Regions from separate parts of the Homo sapiens genome. Here region 2 is linked to region 1. The links come from fine-mapping of genetic effects on gene expression. Tissue or cell type: whole blood. Region 1 holds a variant in brackets; the other region holds the start of a gene. All regions are shown on one strand. Distances are from middle to middle.

What was found. PIP is the estimated chance that this variant, and not a neighbour inherited with it, causes the effect.
Region 2: it holds the start of KLHL6, and the variant in region 1 is fine-mapped to the expression of KLHL6 in whole blood (TOPMed, PIP above 0.99).

Annotation. Positions count from the first base shown.
Region 1 is chr3:183,495,769-183,498,455 of GRCh38, reverse strand. The region is part of intron 4 of KLHL6 (kelch like family member 6); the gene reads left to right. Among named protein-coding and RNA genes, the nearest start is that of SNORA63E, 43 kb to the right of the region's middle. The variant C/T (reference allele first, on the strand shown) is at 1,451.
Region 2 is chr3:183,554,274-183,556,960 of GRCh38, reverse strand. KLHL6 (kelch like family member 6) reads left to right here and starts at 1,255. Exons shown (of 7, transcript NM_130446.4): 1 at 1,255-1,600. The coding sequence starts at 1,308.

The DNA of each region.
Region 1 (2,687 bases):
CCACCTGGCTCTCCCTGGGACCCTAAGGAAGGAGACAAGCTTCCCTTCCCCTTTCTTAGAGGCTTTTCTTGAATCTGAACTTGTGGGGAAAGCTGGACCCCAGAGCGTGTTTCCTCCAAAATCAAGGGCAGGTCATTCTTTGGATGCATTTATACCATTGATTAGGTTCTAGCTTTCTTTTAATCTTGTAGACGTTTATTTTATTTTATTTTTTATTTTTTTGAGACAGAGTCTAGCTCTGTTGCCCAGGCTGGAGTGCAGTGGCGTGATCTCGGCTCACTGCAATCTCTGCCTCCTGGGTTCAAATGATTCTCCTGCCTCAGCCTCCCAGGTAGCTGGGATTACAGGCACGTGGCACCACATCCGGCTAATTTTTGTATTTTTAGTGCAGATGGGGTTTCACAGTGTTGGTCAGGCTGGTCTTGAACTCCTGACCTTGTGATCCACCCGCCTCAGCCTCCCAAAGTGCTGGGATTACAAGCGTGAGCCACTGCGCCCGGCCTTAATTGTTGTAGAAGATCCAAACAATACTGAGCACGTAAAGTAAAATAGGGCAGTTTCTCTGTGCCATCACAATTCTATGGGTTTTCATTTTTTACAAAAATTGTTTTCTATTTGCTCAGGGTAAATAATTTTAGCTGCTGTTACAAATCCTAAGTCTCAGTGAATTAACACAATAGTATGCAGGGGTCGGGGCAGGACAGTCTGCTCCACTCAGGCACTCAGGGGCCTAGGGGCCTGCCATCTTCTGACACTGCCTCTTCCTACACATGGCCTTGATTTAGGGACAAGAAAAAAGCTAAGGGAGTTGAGAAGTCACACCTGCTCATAAAAGCCTCAGCCTGGAAGTGCCATCAATTTTGCTCACATTCCATTGGCAAAAACTAGCCACATGACCTCCCTTACCCTCCCCTCACCCCCTCTGGGTGCAGGGACCTGGGAAATGTAGTTTAGCTGTGTGCCCAGGAGGGATCAACAGGTGTGGTCATCATAGTCAGTCTTTGTCACATATACTACACGTGTTATTCTTTTTTTCTTTTTCTTGAGATGGAGTCTCACTCTGTTGTCCAGGCTGGAGTACAATGGCGAGATCTCGGCTCACTGCAACCTCTGCCTCCCAGGTTCAAGCAATTCTCCTGCCTCAGCCTCCTGAGTAGCTGGGACTACAGGCACATGCCATCATGCCTGGCCAATTTTTGTATTTTTGGTAGAGAGGGGGTTTCACCATGTTGGCCAGGCTGGTCTCAAACTCCTGACCTCAGGTTATCCGCCTGCTTTGGCCTCCCAAAGTGCTGGGATTACAGGTGCCCACCACCATGCCTGGTTAATTTTTGTATTTTTGGTAGGTGGGGGGCTCACCATATTGACAGGCTGGTCTCAAACTCCTGACCTCAAGTGATCCGCCCGCTTCGGTCTCCCAAAGTGCTGGGATTACAGGCGTGAGCCACCA[C/T]GCCCGGCCCAATTTTTTTTTTGTATTTTAAGTAGAGACAGGGTTTCACCATGTTGGCCAGGCTAGTCTTGAACTCCTGATCTCAGGTGATCCGCCCACCTCAGCCTCCCAGAGGGCTGGGATTACAGGTGCGAGCCACTGTGCCCAGCCCACATGTTATTCTTTTGTCATAAATTTGTTGTTCACTTTTTAATGATACAAGCAATACCTGAAAGCATGCTTGTTATACACGGCTAAATCAACAGAAACTTGTACTTCAATTAACAATATCATCTGGACATGATGACATGTTGGTTTAATGGATATACATATCAAGTGATATAGTTATTACATGCAAAGCACATGGTGGGAGCTTAATTATGTTGGCCAGTATTATCACTACTGTTATTCTTTTTACCAGCTATATGGCAGTCTACCAAATGGATAAACCATAATTTTTTTAGCTTTCTTTTTTTGGTCTCCTTAAAAAATATTGCAGTAGGCATTCTTAGACACATATTTTTTCATACTTGTGCTGCTACTTGGAAAGTTTCCTGGAAGTGGTCATATGTGAATTAAGAATTTTGTATATATTGTGAAATTTTCCTACAGAAAAGTTGTACCAATTTACAGTTCAATCAGTGATGAATGACAGTGCTCATTTTCTATATCCTTGCTAACGATTTTTATTATTAGTCATTTAAATTTTTAATAGACTAGAATGGTAAATATATATTTACCAGATAATTGTATTTATTTTTAAAAATTATCTGTTCATACTCTTTGACACTTCCTATCAGTTTTTGTCTTGTTCTTACTAATTTTTTGGAACTCTTCTTATATATCCTTTGCTATTTGTGTTGCAAATATTTTCTCCTAGACTGTGGTTGTTTTTTACCTTTATATACTTGTTTTCTGTCCTATACAATTCTACATTCATGTCATGCTTAGAAAACCCCTCCTAACCCCAAGGTCATTAACATAATATCCTATACATTTTCCAGTTACTTCTGTAGCAGTAACATTTGAATTTTATTTTAAATGTAATGTAAAATAAGTATCTAACTTAATCTTTATCCAAATGAATAACCAATTGTTCTAATAACATTTATTTAATGATCTGTATATATTTTAGTCCGTTTCTGTGCTCTTGTTTTTAACTGATCAGTTTGTCTAGTACTGCACTGTTTGTATTAGGATAGCTTTATAGTATATTTTAATATTTGATAAGGAAAGCCTCCTTCTTCCCTTTTCTTTT
Region 2 (2,687 bases), 59 kb before region 1:
TGGACTTCAGGACTTACACCAGTCTCCCCACCCCCTGGATTCTCAGGCCTTTGGCTTTGGACTGAGAGTTATACCATCTTCTCTGGTTCTGAGGCCTTTGGACTTGAACTGAGCTCTCAGCAGTCTGTCATGCGACTTCTCAGTCTCCATAATCACGTGAGCCAATTCCCCTAATAATTTCCCTCTGCTATGCCTCTCTAGGTATCCTTTTGGTTCTGTCTCTCTGGAGTCCATCATCGACTGAAATATCATTATGCTGGGTATGACTGTAATTGTAATGGTTAATTTTAGATGTCAAGTTTGCTGGGCTAAGAAATACCTAGCAACCTGGTAAAGCATTACTGTTGGGCGTGAGAGAACGCTAACTGATACGCTCCTATAACTTCCCCAGGATATCATGGGATTTTAATAATGACAGTTATTACTACTTAACTGAGACATGCAGAGGTAATGAAAATACTTCAGGATCCACCGTTAGATGCACGGTCAGTAGATGTTGGGCTAATCTGAGACGTGCTATGGCAATTCGGTGTAGACCCACCCTGACTCATCCTCTGAGAAGATGCTGTTGATGGAGTTTTGGAAACCATTTCTTCTGTGCCCCCAAAGCATATTCGAAACAATAGACATTTTTTTTGGTGGGGGAAGACATGAAAGTTTGCCATGACGTTGTTTTCCCCTGGGTAGGGAGGAGGATGAAGATAGACGATCTGCAGTGCCGCCAGAAATGAGAATGTCAGGGATAAGTGGGGTTTCCATGGTTTACAAAGCACGGTTGTTGGATCATTGTGGGGTCTCAGACTCCTGGGAGGAGGAAGTGGGAGGATCATAGACTGTCTCCTGTCCATCCCCTCGCTGACGACTTGGGTTATTGAGCCACTAGGAGTACAAATGTGAAGCAGGAGGATTATAGACTGTCTCCTGTCCATCCCCTCATTGACGACTTGGGTTATTGATAGCATTAGGAGTACAAATGTAACAGCCACCACCGGAGGCTTCCTGCTCACGGATATGAGGTGGGAGATGCACCAAAATAAACACACAGCACTCACAGTGGACTCTGAGAGGACACTCCTCTTCCAGAACCCCCTCCCACACACCTATTCTAAGTAATTTCTAACCCTGTGATTACTCACAGAAAGAAGAAGAATAGAAGTTGCTGGCATTTGTAGTAACAGGATGAGAAAGTGCGAGACTTCCTGTTATGTGTGTGTGACAGCTGGTGATAAGTGGAGGGCCCTGCACAGGAAATCCGCTCAGCTCCTGCAATGGGGCCTGCCTGACACTTGGGCGCTCCTTCAGTCTCGATGTTGATGGCAGGACAAAGGGGCGCCTGGACCATGGGTGATGTGGTCGAGAAGAGTTTGGAAGGGCCCCTGGCACCTTCTACAGATGAGCCCTCCCAGAAAACAGGAGACTTGGTCGAGATCTTAAATGGGGAAAAGGTCAAATTTGACGACGCGGGACTCTCCTTAATTCTTCAGAATGGCCTGGAAACCCTGCGAATGGAAAACGCTCTGACAGATGTCATCTTGTGTGTGGACATTCAGGAATTCTCCTGCCACCGCGTGGTGCTTGCCGCAGCCAGCAACTATTTCAGGTCAGCATGCCTAGGACCAGAGTCAAATTGGGTGCAAGTTGCAAGGAAGAGGTGTGTTAGTGTGAGAGCCCAATCTTGAACAGTTGGCCATGATATTTATGGTTTACATATATATTAAGGCTTGTGTGTCTACTTAAAATATAAGAAAGGACACTATCACACTTTATTTTATTATTTATTTATTTATTTATTTTTGAGACGGAGTTTTGCTTTTGTTGCCCAGGCTGGAGTGCAATGGCGCAATCTCGGTTCACCGCAACCTCTGCCTCCTGGGTTCAAGCGATTCTCCTGCCTCAGCCTCCCGAGTAGCTGGGATTTGCAGGCATGCACCACAACACCCGGATAATTTTGTATTTTCAATAGAGATGGGGTTTCTCCATGTTGGTCAGGTTGGTCTTGAACTCCCGACCTCAGGTGATCCACCCGCCTCCGCCTCCCAAAGTGCTGGCATTACAGGTGTGAGACGCTGCGCCCGGCTTATCACACTTTAAATTTTAGGATTTAGGCCACATTAAAAGAGAGATTGGCATCATTTAAAAGCAATGCTTACATTCTATAGTAAACCTTTTGTGTATATTTCCTTGTTCCAAAGGATGGAAAATTACTGAAGTCATGGGGACTTTTTTCCCCCTTGGTCTGACTGGTGTTGGAAACATAATGTTGTCTTTGTTAATCAACAGACATAGAGAAAAAGGATGTGGCCCCTCTTCTGGAGTTGTCAAATGACTTGTTACAAATTAGGGGCTTCTTTATGTGTAGGCAGTGTGGGGAAAGGGAAAGCAGTTACAAAGATGCTTTAGATGGGAGAGGCCTCTAGTTACGATAAACTGGTGATCTCATAGTGGGAAGGCCTGAAGTCAGGAGACTTGGTTCCTTCTTGACAGTGAAACTTTAGGCAAGTCACAAAGTGCTCTGAATGTCTGTTTCATCATCTGTAAGGTGAGCACAATGATGATCACCTTTCAGGGCTGTCATAATTAAACAAGAGCGTGAAAAGGGTCCTACACAGTGTCTAGCATATAGTAAGTAGATGCTCAATATATCTTTCTTGGAATTCTTTTTCTGATTCTGCTTGATTCAGCTAAGG